2 separate regions of the Homo sapiens genome follow, and region 1 is linked to region 2. A link means that fine-mapping ties the variant in region 2 to the expression of a gene that starts in the linked region. Tissue or cell type: whole blood. Region 2 holds a variant in brackets; the other region holds the start of a gene. All regions are shown on one strand. Distances are between the middles of the regions.

Region 1 (8,180 bases), 180 kb before region 2:
AGCTAGGTTTCTGAGCTCTGCCCTACAGAGACAAAATTGCTCCTCAGTCATGTACCCAGCCTCTCTCTCTGTGAGCTATCTCAGCTGCACTGTTGCTCAAGGGAAGAGAGAAATCAGGCGATAAAGCATTTAAATTGGTGCTTGATTTTAGCAGGATTCTTTCATCTGCAGTTGCCAGATGCTTAATTGTGTTCAAAATTCAGTGGGAAGATAAAGATTACAAAGGAAGGATCTCAAAGAGTCCTGGGCTTCTAGAACTGGAAGAGACCTCTGAGATTCTCACAGTGAGAATCTCAGTGGCTAAGTCAGACACTGAGGGATGAAGAAAGGTGGGAGAGACCCCCTACACCGATTGCTGTGGGAGAAATGCCTTCTACCTGGAGATGACGGGAAAATGCTGGTTGGTCTTAAGAGGGAGATAGGTAGAAAATTTCATATTTTATAGACATTCCTGAGTCCAAATCCAGTTATCCTTTCATATTCCAGGTAAAAGGTAGGCGACAGAGTAATAGTGCTATGTTCTACCTGTATCGGGAACCCAGATCCACAGGTAAGGATAAGGGAAATATTGTCATTACAGCCCATTTATAATAAGACACGATGCACTGCATGTTTCTGCAGCATGCAAAAACACTTCTTGGCAAGGACTCACTGCAAGCCGGAAGATACTGATTTAAGCAGATGTGATTTACAGTTGTACTAACTAATGAAAACTTCTGATCATACACAACTGATCAATGACCACTTATGCCCAATTATATGAAAACAGTCTGTTCCTCCACAAGAATAATATTCTTATTAAAACCTACCAGAAAACAATGTAATAAATTAATGGAATATTTGATAAACATTTTTAAATGATCTTGTAGGCCTCCATGGTTTCTATGAAGGGCTCTAAAATAACATTTTAGAGAACATTCTGATCTAGCTCCCACAACTGGGTCACTTACTATGTGTTAGAGGCTTTGTAGATCATTCTGAGAAAATCAGAAGACAGAATCCCTCACCTTGAGGGGCTTGCAATCTAAAAAGAGAAGCTGGACAGACACTAGCAACATAAACATATGCATAAGTACAGCCTCTCAGAGCCACCCCTACAAACACTAGAATGCATATGCCAGTGCCATGAAAAGCTCAAGAAAGACAGTGAGAAACAACACAGACAAGGTTTTTGCCTTCAAGGAGGAGATTCAAGAAGTTCAAAGGGATAGCCTTTGCTCTGGCTATCCTTTTTACCTTGGCTGCCTTCTCCATCCACTCTTTCCTGCCTGTCAGAATTCCGCCCATTTTATAAGGCCTGAGCCTTTCTTTCTCTGTGAAAATTCCTGTCCCTGAGATCTCTTCTTCCTCTGGCTCCTTTAACACTCACTGCCTGCTCTACTTTCAGGTCACTCACAGGCTGCTCTGCTATTGCTAGTTATGTGTTCACATGTTTATGAGCTGTCTTCTTAAGAACTTGGGTTTCATTCATCCCTGAATCTCCTTTACCCTCCTGTCCCTAGCATAATGGCTTGCATGTATTAGGCATGAAAACACGTCTGTTAATTGGTTGATTTTAAAAATATATGCATATACTATAAGCTTAACGGTTGGGGAAATTACTTACTGAAATATTATTTTAAAAAACCTATCACCCCCAAAATTGAAGTGACACAGTGTCTGAAATCCCTTCATTAGAGATACATGCCTTTGATGGCCGGACGTGGTGGCTCATGCCTGTAATCCCAGCACTTCGGGAGGCTGAGGCGGGCAGATCACCTGAGGTCGGGAGTTTGAGACCAGCCTGACCAACATGGAGAAACCCCATCTCTACTAAAAATACAAAATTAGCTGGGCATGGTGGTGCATGCATGTAATCCCAGCTACTCAGGAGGCTGAGGCAGGAGAAATGCTTGAACCCGGGAGGCGGAGGCTGTGGTGAGCTGAGATCGTGCCATTGCACTCCAGCCTGGGCAATAAGAGCGAAACTCCATCTCAAAAAAAAAATTTTTTTTTAAGAAGGGCAATAATTAAGTTTATTTAATTATGTTATTAGTGACTTATCAGTTTTATTCTCCAATAAACACAAAAACCGAGTTGGGTAAGATTACAGTTCAATTCTCAAACAACTGAGTCCTTATTACATGCCAGGTCCTGTGTTTGGTGTGAAGCCCAAAGATAACTAAGACATAATCCTGTCCTAGAAAAGCTTACATTCTAGTCACCAGAATATTGTATGATAGTTTCTTTGGGGTCTATGACAAAGCCAAGCACAGGATATGGAACACTTAGCCCGCCCTGGAGGATTGACGAAAGGCTTCCTGGAGGAACCATCAACTTACATACCTTCTCCATGCCTTCTCTGGCTGCCTGCCTGCCTGCCTTCTTCACTTTTCTACTGGTAAACATAGCTGCCTCAAGATCCACCTCAAATGTCACCTCCTCTGAGAGGCCTTCCTAAGTCTCAGAGGCAGAATGAGTCCCTCCCTCCTTAGGCCTCCTAACCCTCTTTGCCCAACTGTATGATAGCATTTCTCACATCTTATGTGGTTCCTGTGTCTATCCTCCCTCCATCCCCCAGCCCACATAGATCATGAACTTGCAATAGACAAGAGCCACTTCCCATTCATTTCAGCCTTTCCAGCTCTTACCACTGTGCCAAGCATGTAGTAGATAGGAAGACCACTGTGTTATTATAGTTGACTGGAGACTTCTCTGATAGCACCGGCTCAGAGCTGGATTGTGTATCTCTAGGCCCTGAGTTGAGTGCCAGCTGGGATACAGGAAGCAAGAACTGCCCACCAACATTAGTGACAAGCCACTCCCTGACTCCATTCAGCCCAGTACATACTTACTGAGAACCAATTGAAAAAAGAATTCAGGCATCACTACTGGAATACCTACTGCTGTGTACCAGATGCTTTACATACATGATCTCATTTACTCCATGTAACAACTCTGGAAAGGGTTACTTATTCCTTTTTATCAGCTAAGGAGAGAGGCTCACAGGGGTTATTGATCCAGGGTCACATATCACCCGGGGTAGTCTGCTGTAAAGCCTATCTGCTGTGTCCTGCTCCATTACAACACAAGGGAAAGTATATCTAATGAGAGATGAAAACTAAAGGTCCAAGAGTCACGCAAGATTTAGAGAGTGCACATGGGAAGGTGGCCATCAGAAATGTCTTCACAGAGGTCAAGGCAACGAATAAAATGGAAAAAACAAGTAGAAAGATCTTGAAGAGATGTCCTTCTTGGTATAGCACTGGATGCATCAATGCATGCTAGGAAAGAAACACGGTGGGGTTGGGGGATCCTTAGATATCCCTCTTGGGGTGGAGACCATGTCTCCAGTCTTCTCTTGGTTTTCTCTCACTGGTCAGTGAGGAGGGGGAGAGAAGTACATACTGTTGTTGTCCCTAGAAGTGCAGGAGTGAAAACACACCCCACCCCTCCTTCCATGACAGAGTAGAGAGGATCTGTTTCTCCCCTTTCCTCTCCCTCGCCTTGGAGTAAGGAGGCTGCCTTCCTCCCTAGAAGAGGTATTTCTTTTTTGTCTCACCATAGGGTGTGTGTGTGTGTGTGTGTGTGTGTGTGTGTGTGTGTGCGCGCGCGCGCGCGCGTGTGTGTGTGTGTGTGTTAGTAACAGCGGATTATTCCCTTCCCCCTCTTCTGGGGGCTGGGGAGATGACATCTTTCTCCCCAGCGTTGGGAAAGGAGGTGGTTCTTTTCCTCCTCACTACAGGGTGTTCGTGCTTGTGTGCGTGTGTGCGCGCGTGATTGGGATGACTCCTTTCGTTCTCACCTCCGCATAGGGAGGCTGACACCTCTTATCCTTCCAAAAGGAGTGGGGTCGGTTTCCTTCGCCTCCATTTCAGCTGGGACACGGCTCTTTTTCTCTCCAACCAAAAAGATGGTGGGGCCTCTGGTTCCTTTTCCTTCCCCTGGGGAGAAGGCCTGGCTCCCACGCCCTCCCCGCATAGTCACGCTCAGGTTGCTGGAGGCCTGGGTCGCCCCCTCCTGCAAGCCCCGAGAGTCGCCAGACGCGCGGCTAGGTGCCCTCCGTGAGCGGGGCGGGGCCGCCTCTGCGGCGCGGGGCGGGGGCTATCTCTGGCCCCGCCCCTGCCCCGCCCGCTCCCTCTCCGCGAGCCTCGCGCCGCGCGGGTTGCCTGGCCCAGACCGCCGCTGCTGTCTGCGGGGTCTGGTGCCGGGGCCTGAGTCTCTGCTGGCTAAGCCGCCGCCTCAGCCGCCTCAGTCGCCTCAATCTCGCCTTCCGCCCTCGCTCTCCCTCCGCGCCACCAGACCCCGTAGCCCCGCGCGCCCCCAGCCCTTTAAGCCAGATGATGAACTTCCTGCGGCGCCGGCTGTCGGACAGCAGCTTCATCGCCAACCTGCCCAACGGCTACATGACCGACCTGCAGCGGCCCGAGCCCCAGCAGCCGCCGCCGCCGCCGCCCCCCGGTCCGGGCGCCGCCTCGGCCTCGGCGGCGCCCCCGACCGCCTCGCCGGGCCCGGAGCGGAGGCCGCCGCCCGCCTCGGCGCCCGCGCCGCAGCCCGCGCCGACGCCGTCGGTGGGCAGCAGCTTCTTCAGCTCGCTGTCCCAAGCCGTGAAGCAGACGGCCGCCTCGGCTGGCCTGGTGGACGCGCCCGCTCCCGCGCCCGCAGCCGCCAGGAAGGCCAAGGTGCTGCTGGTGGTCGACGAGCCGCACGCCGACTGGTAGGTGCCGGGCGCCGCCGCCCTCGGGGGTCGGGGTCCGCCGGCAGCCGCAGGCCAGGAGAGGACGGTCCCAGGTCGCCGAGGAAACGTTTCAGACCAATAAAAAGGAGGGTCCCCGAGGTCCCGCTGGGAGGAGGTGCGGGCTGAGCGCGCGCGCGTTTGCGGGGTGAGGGAGGGCATCCATCAGCCCGGAAAGGCGAACCCAAAGCTAAAATACCCCTCAATTGCCCCAGGTCCCCCAGGTCCCATACAAGAAGGAGCTACTTTATGCAACAGGAAAGGCCCTTAGGAAATAGTTTTTTTGGGGGTAGAGGAGGGGACACACTTGTTAGCTTAGACACATAAAATCTGAAGTGAAATAGTCCCAGGAGGCCGAAGGAACATTTAGGGCCAGTAAAAAAGGTTTAACTTCATGAAGCACGGAGTGAATTTGGAATGGAAATTGGTATTTTGGAGGGAGAAGGTGGTGGTGGGTTTTTTTTAACCAGGACCCATGAAGGCTGATATCAAGTATTGACATCAGGTTGATGAAATCACACATGTAGTGGCCCAGGTGTACACGGGCTTGTTCCCCGGAGCATGGCTGAAGTCTCTTTATGAATAATAAAATTGTTGTATTTTGTGCAGCAGGGAGGGGACGTGTGGAATTTTTTTTTTTTTTTTTTGATTGCTTGTTTTTCTGAAATGTGCGTGGTGGGGGGCGGGGCGTGGAAGTGAATGGTAGCTTTTTCTAGCTGAAAGATGAAGACCTTGGTAAAATATACTGGATCATTAAAGGGGTACAAATAAAAGGAGACCTGCCTTAATGTAGTAGATGGGAAACTTCAATAATTTTTTTTTTCTTCTAAAGAGATAGGTAGCATGTTTCCAACTTAGAATGGTGAAGGCTGCTGCTTGGTAAAAGTACGAATGAGGTCCACTGAAGACAAATTAGTTAAAAGCGGCTCTATTTTATAGTTAACCTAGGGAATGGTGGGATGGTGAAATTGATAGGTGAAGGGCTTGGAGAAATGAAGAGGCCGAGAATCTGGGGGTGCCTTTTCTCCAGGAATGTGAGCAAGGGTTTTGTTTTTTTTTTTTTCTCATAGGGGTTGAGGTTGGAGACTGGACCTGAGTGTTCTTCCCAGGAGGGGTGCACAGAGAGACCACAGAGCTATTTCTCTCCATTTCCTCTTTTGGCTGCTTCACTGCTTTCTCTCTCTAGCATTCTCTCTTTGGGAGACCCAGAGGGAGGGAGTGCTGGCGTGTGGGTGTGGTGGAAATGAGATGCAGATGTGGAGATGCCCTCCTGCTGGCTGCTAATGTCACCATTCTGAATAGTCCTTTGGGTGACTTATGTGGTTGGCCTTTTCAAGAGAGTAGAGTAGAAAATCCGAAAGGACTTTTGCCAGGAAATGACAAAGGCACATGGAAGAGGGTAATGGGGAAAGTGTAATGCATATGATAGTGCCACTGGCAGCCCTCCTTAGAATTACTCTGACTCAGTTCATATCAACAAGTGCTTATTACGGAGGAAGGGAAGGTAACCAAGCTAGTAAAGGTGCTCAGTCAGAGCATCCATTATATGCCAAATGCTGTACTCTCAGCATGATATCTCATTGCATTTTCTTCACAAAACTGAGGCTTAGGAAAGGTAAGTAATATGTTTACAATCATGTAGCCAGCAAGTGGTAGAAGCAGGATTTGAACTTAGGCCTGTTTGACTCCACTGCTTTCATTCCACTGTGTTATATTGCCTCACTATTATTATTAGCAATATTAATAACAAGCTCCCTCTAGGCAGTGTGGGGGCCTTTTAAGAGAACTCACTCAAATTGGGACACAAAGTGGATACATGAAACAGTTAAAAAGAAATCTAGAATTATTGGTTGAGACTAGTGTTTCAGGCAGTCAACAAATGGAGTGGTTAGTGAGAGCCAGAGTTATTGGAGAAAGCTTCACAAAAGATGAATCTTGAAGAAAGGCCAAGAAAAGGAAGAGGAGAAATGAGAATGACATTCGTGCTTTATTTTTCTGTGCAGGAATTTGACCCTTCTGTACCTTGTCCTGATTTCTTATCCTATTAAATGCACTTGTTTTGAGTCTTATTGCCAGTTAGGTATCTATAGATAGGTACTGATACTTATTTGTATGGGTATGATGAAGCTGCTGCAGATTTCTGTTTAGTTATAAATGCTTCTGTAGCTTAAGATTTGAAACTCTCTTTGGATAGTATTCTCTAGGAAGCCTATTTGGCATAAACTAGAGAATTTGCCTTGCCCTGGAGACTAGAAGCCTCTGATGGAAGTCATAGAAGCCACTTTCCCGTGGGCTGACTCCCAACTGTTTTCCTATTTTCTCTGAAGTAATAACATTGATTTATTAAAACTCATAAGCCCAGTTCAAGTCTAGTTCTTGACAACAGTTTTTTGCTCCTGTGTTTCTGTGCTTAATAGCAGTTCCCAGAATTGCTCTTCTAATATGGGCCTAAATTTGTCAAAAAATCTCAGTTAAAAATTGATGAGTGGTTTTATTGAAAAGTCTCTATGAGTTAAGGAGCAGGTGCTTGCCGTGACAAGCGCAGTGACTTACACAGGTGATTTTTGCACTGAAGACTGATTTTAGTAAAATTGTCTCACAGTTTAAGCTACCTAGATAGTATTCAATGAGTGATATCGTATATGCCCTATATTATTTTTCTGGTGCTGGAATAGGAAGTCAGAGTGTAGACTCATTAGAACTTAAGAATATTGGTCCCCTCTGAATTATATAATGCTAAAATAAAAAGAGTCTGAACAAGCATTTAAATAGCAAGAGATGTAAAAGAAGGGCTTAAAATAAGCAGCCTCTCAGAGCATCCTTAATACAACAGCAGTTTCCTTTGAATTTCTGTCATTGTAATTGTGGGCAATTGGAGACCCCACCACTGACCAGGTTGATGGGAAAATTGGAAGATGTTTTTCTTTTGCTGGAAATGTTTTCATTGGTTGTTTGAGATCTTTAGATTAATCGCACACTAAAAGATCGTTGAAAAATTTATCTGTGCCATTAAAAATTGAAATCAAGCTCTTTATATACCTTATTATTTATTATTAGTATTTTGTAAATATTGTCAGAAAATGTCCTCTTTTAAGGTTCATGGCTAAATTTGAAATGCAATTAAGATTGCACTTTAATGATCGTGCTTAAACAAGGAACAGGTGTTTATGTTGTTTCTTCTGTGTGTTATACTCTCACCAGCGAAGAGATACGTTTTCTCTCAGATTCTGTCCTGCCTTTGTTCCGGAGATTCTGACCCCAGTGATCAAGTGAGCTTTTCATCCTGGCATGATGTTTCAGTGTTTGATTCAGTATAGCACAGGTACTCTTGAGTGTCCAGACTGCAGATATAAGGCAACAGATATTTATGAAGCACCTTCTCTGTATAGGGGATATTTACTAAGAAAAATGAGACACAGTATCTGCCATCTAAGAGCTTGCTGTCCAGATAGGTAGATAAGATAAA
Region 2 (8,180 bases):
TATGCAGTGTCAGCTCCTCTGTCTGGTTGTTTACCTGTTCCTGTTCGTGCTTGTAATGCTCACTTATGTTTTCTCTGTATAACTTGTGATTCCAGGGCTGTTTGTCAACAGTATACAAAAGAATTGTGCCTCTCCCAAGTCCAGTGTGACTTTATCTTCTGGGTGGTTTGATAGTGTTTTTAAAAGTAATATATAATGTGGGGTGAAATGGGAGTAGGGGGGTGGACAGGGGAGAAACGAAAACCACAAAAAGAAAACCCAACTCCTCTCCTCCCCCCAAGCTCAGTTAAATCCCCCACCTCCAACTTTCCCTCCACCAGTGTGCTTGGGATCTTCAATGAACTGTGCTTTTCGCTTTCTTTCTGCATGACTATTGTAACTAGATAGAACATTAAGAGATTTTCAAGATCAAACTTCCATAGCTTCATCCACTGAATTTGAAGGCATCCACCTTTTTCTCCATTTGCTAAAATTTGGTGCAGTTTGAGTTTATGTGAATAGGCTGGCTGTGCCTGTAGAGCTCTTGTGTTTTTAGTGATGACATGAAATACAAAGAACAAGCTATTTCCAGGAATGTGTTCTGTATTTTACATCCCAGTGTACCCTTTATTTTATTATTAACTAATTAACTATGAGATTTTTAAAAAATGGGGCCGCTGATGTGCAATATCAAAGTGAACTTGTGAGTATTTTGTGTGTGTTGATCTCAGTTGTTTCTTCATTGTTGCTGTTTCTGGATCCAGCCATGTGTGCGCTTGTGTGGACCTGAGGCTGCTTTCTGTTCCCAAAGCTTGACCTGTGTACAGAGATAATTCCTTGGCAATGTTGGACATAGAATGCAGGGAGCTACTGAAGGTCTGTCAGGGATTTGTCCATTCTGCTCTTGGCCTCTCCTGAGGCCTCATAATGGGAGACCAAATCAAAAATGTCCCATGTCACTTGAGTGGGTACACTGCCTACAGAACCTTGAGGTTGACTCCTGCTTCAGTTCTCAGCTGTTTACCACAGCCCTCCAGGGTCCAAAGATTGAGGAGCTTTCTCTTTCCTGGGAGGAACTGTCTCAGATTTAGCTTGTGTGTGTTTTGGACAGAGGCTCCACAGCGGTGGCTCTTGAGGAATCCTCACCAGTTTGTTCTCTTCCCTCTGACAAGCAGCACCTGAGCAGATGCTGAGGCAGTTCATTAAACCAGGCCTCAGCTTCAGTGCCTCATCTTGCCATCTCCCGGCCAGGCTGGGAACGGGCACCAAGCAGCCGCCTCTAACAAACACCATGGTCCGTGGAAGTTCATGCCAGCAGCTTGCCTTTGAGAAGAAATGCTGCTGGCTCTATTTTTACATTCCCTTCCACCTCTATACTGTCATGTCACCGTTCTGAACTCCCAGATCTGAGAAGGAACTAGTGTTGGTGGTATGTAACAAGAGTTACGTATCCAGGGGCTTGTGCCTTGGTTTCTCCTTTGATTGCTGGTAAATTCTGAGGCCACAGAGAAATGCATTGAGTGTGAATGTTGTCATCTGTAATCCCTCCCTCAGCTGATAATGGTAGTTGATCTGTTGTAAATATATACATATATGCATATTTGCACTTCCAGATGGGTTGCATAAGAATCAGGTCCTTAAATACCTCCCAATCTGATGAAACGATAGAATAAAGTAACATTTCCCAGAATGGAGGAATACATTATTTTATCGTATATTTTTGTCCAAGCGATGAGCTGACGGTGGTATTGCTTCTCTGCATGTTATCAGTGTGTACATCTGGTGCTTTTCATGTGTCATTTGTGAGCCACAAATGCAAAGTTGCCATTTGAATTCAGTCAGGCTACAGGGTGGTGTCAGTCAAGGTCTTTCAGGTGGGGGAGAAATTGGTTAGGGCTCCCACTGCCAAATGCAAGCAGATAGCATAACCTGACTGTTATGTGCCCTCAGGCAGCATGCTTAGGGACAACTCTGTGGCCTGGGGGACATCTGTGTCACAGTATAGGATTGCCATTCAGGTGTTTTGTACCTATTTCTTTCCTGACGTTGTCCCCTTTTTTTGTACTGATCCAACTGGGAGAACCTCAGCCAATGCTGGAAGTATGATTGAAGTACCTCTCTTTTGTGACTCTTGTACAGCTTAATGTGCAATAAAGGAAAAGTTATATCTGTCTTCAGTGTTAAGTTGTAACGTTTCTGGCTATCCAAGTATCTGCACAAATGGGAAAGCACTCAGGTTTCTGGTGCAAGAGACTGAGCTATTAACCTGTATTACCTTACAGGAGAATGCTAATGCAAATGATGCCAAACTTTGGAAGTGGCAAAAGCTGGTTAATGTGAAATAATCTGCTAATCTATCATCTTCACTAGTTATTTGATTTGAATTTGGAGCTTCTTAAACCTGCAGAATTCCATTGATTTATGTATGTGTTTATTTCTCTGTAACTAACTCTGGTATTATTTGGTTAGATGATAAAGGGTATTCTGTGCCCTATAGTGGGGAACTGAGCGGATAGTCATGGGTGCACAGTGGCATAGACATACAGTTCTGCCTCTCCAGAGGGTGCAGATGTTCTGGTGTTTCTTAAAAACTAAGTGATAATACAACTAGCTGGTGCTGAGTTTCTGTAAGTCCACTCCCTCCAGCAGGCCCGTGGATGTGGACTGTGGGATTGAGGCTGAGAGACTGGACCTCCCAGGGCAGTCGTGCATCATTTCCACTAGTCAGTAGGTGCTAATGGGGATGGCTTTTGATTTCTAAGCGTTGGGACCCTCCTCAGCAAACTCTAGGCAATCTGGTACCACCTTAATGCCTGTCAACTCCCAGAGGAAGGAGGACCTTTTTCCTCTCCAGGCCACCAGATGGTTTAGTGTTTCATGCTGGGAGGAGGGTGTGCTGTTCCTTTTTAGGGGGGCTTTCATTTGCCAAATGGCACCCACAACATCCCCAGGGGAGAGTGGGGTTTGGATGTCTTGAGAATTCTACCACACATGGCTGAGAGGTTCATCCTGCTAGAACCCCTTGAGGATATTACTGAGAGGCAAAACAGTGCCTAGGAAGAATGGATTTCTCCTGGTTGTGGGCATGAGTTAATGCTAAAATGAAGCCCTGGTGGGGCATGGTGGGCCTGGCAATCAGACCCACGCAGGCTTGGAGCAGGACCAAGGGCAGCTCCATAAAACAGCATATGTCAGTGACCATCGAGGTGATCATAAGGTACGGAATACTTTTTGAAGAACTTGCTCAACCCTATTATCTTTGAAACACTACCCCTTAAAAGACAACTAAGACCAGGGCTTACACTTTTTAAAGTTTTATGTTTGGGAAAACCAAGGCCCAGGGAAGTTTGGTGACTTGCTCAGGGAGTCACTGGTAGACTATTTCTGAGATCCAGTGCTCTCTCCACCACACTCTCCTGCATCTGCCATGTGGAACTTGAGACTTCCCAATAAACCCTGGAGCAGGGTGGTCTGTGCCTGAGACACCTCTAGAGAGGAGGGGAGAGGACCCTGCATTCTAGGGCCCTCTGTGAGAGAGTGCGCCTCTGACGGGGCCGCTCGTCCCTGGTTCCTCCTTGTCCTGCTGACTGCTGCTGTGGCTGAGTTGCTCCGTTTCTGAGGAGAAGCACTTAGTGGCTATATACAAGGATAGCTAACCAAGGACCCCCTTTAGGGCCCTTCAGAGACTCCAGCTTCTTGGAATAGAGCTTATCCTTTGGGTAATTAACTAACCACACCCTTTGAGGCATAAATTCTAATAAGGAAACATTTTTATATGGTTAAATTATGAAGTTTTTCTTGTACTGAACCTAGGGGGCCCTGGGCAACCCCAAGGAATGCAGCCCCCAGGCAAGGTGCTGCCTCCACGCCGGCTCCCCCCTGGACCATCACTGCCACCTTCCTC[CTCTTCCTCCTCT/C]TCTTCCTCCTCCTCGGCTCCTCAGCGGCCGGGCGGCCCCACCACCCACGGAGATGCACCCTCCAGCAGCAGCTCCCTGGCAGAGGCCCAGCCACCCCTGGCTGCTCCACCACAGAAGCCCCAGCCTCACCCACAGCTCAAGTAAGAGACAACTCAGCAGCTCCTCCCTCCCCTCCTCCTACCCTTCCTGTGGGCCTTGGGCTCCAGAGCTGCTAGAAATCACCTTCAATCAGGTCTCCTCCTACAGATATTTTGTGATGGGATTTGGTTTTTTTTTGTTAGTTTGTTTTTGGTTTTTGTGTGTGTGTGTGTGTGTGTGTTTGGTTAAAGGAGTGGTTAGGGTTCACTGGAGAAGGGAGGAAAGAGGGAAGTGAAAGTCTAAAGTTTAGCTAGAAATTCAACCCCCTTCCCTTTCTTCCTGGGAAGTGGCACTACGGCAGAGTCACTGTCCCTTCTCTAGTCTTGTACTAGCTTAAGGTTTTGGTTTGTTTATTTTAAACCCTGTCTCCCACTCTTTTTTCCATTCCTTTTCTTTGTGTGTGTTTCTTTCTTTGTAAAAAAAAATTTTTAATCTTTCTGCCTCTGACTCACAGTTCAGAGTATGCAATCAGTAAGGCTGCCCAGAATGAAAAGAGGGAAGTAGTTAAATCCATTTCAACATTTTACCTTCAGCTCTGTCCAAAGGAGGTCAGTTTCTGGTGTGGGCAGCAGAGGAGTTCCCAGGCAGAGACGCTGAGGAACTCCATCCTCTTGGGTTCCCCCACACCCAGCAATCAACCCTAGAAGCCCCTCCACACTGCCCCACTGCACAGACCCCTGCAAGCAGCAGAGCTGTCTTTGGGAGGGACAGCACCTGGATGTGGACGATGGTCAGTTCTGCCCTCTCTCCCACAGAGGCCTCTGATTGCTTGTGCAGTGTCCCCAGCAGACTTCTGTCACCACCTTCAGCACAGACAGCCGTAGCCTTAGGGGGATGGTAAGGGGATGGTAGTGATACACCCCTGCTTCTCAGAGTGAGGTGACGGGCAACAAATGACTCTTCAGGGAGGGAGAAAAGGGGGCTGGAGAATTCTGGAGTTGAAATGAGCCACTAGGAGATCATGTAGTCATTGCAGATGAGAAAAACTTTGCTCAAAGAAAAATTTTTTTTTTTCTCAAAGCCGAGCTACTCCTCTAATTAGTGGCAGAGCCAAGGTTGCGGGGCTCAGGTGTCCAGATGGTCACTTTCTCTGGGTCTTCCAGTCCCGTGTGATGGGAGGGGCATCACCCACTCTTGCTCCCCAGCTCGGGCCAGTGGCACCTCTTGCCTCTTGCCTGCCACATAATGTCCCTTCAGCCCAGCTGTTTCCTGCCTGCTGACTTTTTTTTAATCCCTCCTGCCTTCCCACTAGCCAACTCTAGCCCCCGCGTGAGGGCAGATCCTTGGATTGTCACTGCCTCTGGGCTGAAGCTGTTGAATAGAGCCAACCTCTGATGAGAAGCTGGAGGCTCATCCCCAGTACTCTGCCTGTGCGGGCTGAGGAGTGCCCCCACTCCCAGAGGCCAGCGTGTTGGGTCTCGTTCCCAGCCCTAATGAAAGGCAGGGTGTCTGTTCACAGTCACTGCAGGCAGAGAGAGACTGCTCACAGTTCTGTAGAAGGGAGTTTCTCCTGAGCTGCACCCAGCATTTAAGGGAGGGCTGAGAGTCCCAAGACACCAGGAGAAGAGTTCTGGAGCCAGAAAGCAGCAGGAGTGAGTAGGAGTCAAGAAGGAGAAAAGCTGGGCCGCTGGAGAAGCCAGACCTCATGTCCTCTCCTGGAGTACAGGCTGGGCCTCCCCATGGCCTTGTGCTTCATGGTTTTTCTCTGTGAACCACTAGTCTCTCAAGGGGAGAATAGGCCCCTAAAATGTTGTAGTTTGGATTTTCTCATTAGAAAACTCCCTAAGAAACTTGTAAAGGCCTGATATATATCTCTTTTGCCACTGGACACCCTGAACCCCATAGACCTCATATTAGCGCTCTTCTGAGGAGGGTTACAAGGGTGGTTACTACATCCATTTTAAGAACAGGGAAATTGCCGGGTGCGGTGGCTCACGCCTCTAATCCCAGCACTTTAGGAGGCAGAGGCGGACGGATCATGAGGTCAGGAGTTCAGGACCAGCCTGGCCAAGTGAAACCCCATCTCTACTAAAAATACAAAAATTAGCTGGGCATGGTGGCAACCATCTGTAGTCCCAGCTACTTGGGAGGCTGAGGCAGTAGAATCGCTTGAACCGGGAGGCGGAGGTTGCAGTGAGCAGAGATCGCACCACTGCACTCCAGCCTTTGCGACAGAGATTCTGTCTCAAAAAAAAACAAAACAAAACAAACAAAAAGAGAACAGGGAAATTGAAGTGTTAGAGTTTTGAGCCAAGCCAATATATTCTTTTGGAATCAGAGAAGAGATCAGAATAGAAAGAGCCAAAAGTGCCTAGAGATCTTCATTTTACCAAACTTGACAGATGAGAACCCAAAGAGAGGCACGTGGCTTGCCTCCAGTTAGGAGGGAGTGAGTGGCAAAACGAGACTTTGGCCCAGGTCTTCTCATCTGGCTCCACCAGTTGACAGTTGATAGAGAAGACAATGCCAGCATCACAGGCCCATTGTGACTTCTTTTCATCAGAAAAGTAATGTGAGATTCCTAGGTTAGTTCTTACCAAGTTGGGATCTGTGAAATTTAGCCCTTGGGCATTTCAGATTAAATTAAAGAAGCGGCCTTTGAGTCGCCTCTTCCTCCTCTTTCCCTTCTTTATTTTTTTCCTTCTCCCTTGTTCCCACACTGTCCCCACCCTTTCTATTCTAGTAGCACCAAAGTTGAGGAAGTAGCGTAGGAGTCTCCCAGGGTCTTGGTAGCATGGCCACTTCTGGCATTATCCTCCATCACCTTGGTTTCCCAGGGAGGGAGTGGGGGTTCTAGCTGTGTATCCTCACGTCACCGTCCTTCCCTGCCTTGCTGGGAACACCACCCTCTCACATTCTCTCTGGTTTTTATCTTCAAGCAAGTCGCAGTCCCTGACAAATGCCTTCAGCTTCTCTGAGTCCTCCTTCTTCCGGTCTTCAGCCAATGAGGATGAAGCCAAAGCAGAGACCATCCGGAGCTTGAGGAAGTCCTTTGCCAGCCTCTTTTCAGATTAGCTCTTCAGACACACGGGGCACCCAGCCCAACCGGGAAAGGCATCTAAGACATTCACCAACAACAGTCAGCCAGCTTGGTGGTTATGTCCCATGACCTTGACGTGTGTGGTCCCTTCCTCTGCTCTGTTGTACTAAGTGATGTTGTGCAGCCCAGAAAGGACCATTTGACAGTCTCAGGGCAGGTGCCTACCCAGCAAGGGGTACCTGGCATCAGAGAGGAAAGAGCTGCTTCCCTGTAGTCATGAGAGCTTCCTTCTGAAGTCATCGTTCGCTGTGAGTTTAGTGGCCTTATTGTGACAGTGCCATCATGTCTTATTCTTCCCTGTGAAACCAGGATTAATCGTGGACTCCTGGCAGCTTAACCTAGCTCAGTTGCAGTGCTAAGCATGCCCCGCCCCCATTCAGTGATACCTGTTTGGGAAGTATATACTTCCCCAAAAGTACTCTTGGCCCTAAGTTTTAGGAACTTTCCCCGACCTGGATCCCTTGTCATACCTGTGTTACTGTTTAAAGCACACCCACCCAACTTACAAGATCTTAGGCTGCTGTGGTGGTGAAGCACCTTGAGTCTGCTGATATTCGGGAGAACAAGGATCTGCAGTTTCCCCTTTTCTCCCCTCTGAAGAGTGGTTCTTATGTGCAATCTGCAGTAACCTTGAACTCCAGAGCTGCACTATAGAGGAGAATGCATGCCACTATGACAGCAGTATGCCAAGCTTTGTGTTCATCTCCTAATAAACGTTAAGACCTTTGGTGTAATAAAAGCAGCAGCATTCACCAACATTTGATTCAGCCATGAGGTCTTGACCCCTTGGCCACCCTTTAGGCTGAGAGAGTGTCCATGAGGGGTGTGTGTGTGTGTGTGCTTGAGTGTAGGGAGTGAAAAATCTAGGTGTGTGAAGCTGTTTGTGTCAGTTTGTGTGTGTGACTGCAGGTGTACATGTGTTTGCAAGTGTTTGAGAATGTGTCTGTCCTTTACATACCACTTCTGGGCCTCCTCGCACCTCCCCAGTGAATCTGTCTCCTCCAAGACACCTAGCCTTCCTTCAGCAACTCAGCGTTTCTACCTATATTACGGACTTTGTAACCTTTCAAATAAGCACAGAACCCTTGCTCCCGGAGGAGTCAATT

Evidence for each region. PIP is the estimated chance that this variant, and not a neighbour inherited with it, causes the effect.
Region 1: SYN2 starts here. The variant in region 2 is fine-mapped to the expression of SYN2 in whole blood (GTEx, PIP 0.93).

The regions. Positions count from the first base shown.
Region 1 is chr3:12,000,233-12,008,412 of GRCh38, forward strand. It overlaps SYN2 (synapsin II), which reads left to right and starts at 4,156. Exons shown (of 13, transcript NM_133625.6): 1 at 4,156-4,696. The coding sequence starts at 4,320. RefSeq lists an enhancer at 4,855-5,355.
Region 2 is chr3:12,183,577-12,191,756 of GRCh38, forward strand. SYN2 (synapsin II) reads left to right here. Exons shown (of 13, transcript NM_133625.6): 12 at 3,793-4,036; 13 at 6,914-8,180. The coding sequence ends at 7,049. Among named protein-coding and RNA genes, the nearest start is that of TIMP4, 29 kb to the left of the region's middle. RefSeq lists enhancers at 3,801-3,910, 4,111-4,250. The variant CTCTTCCTCCTCT/C (reference allele first, on the strand shown) is at 3,884.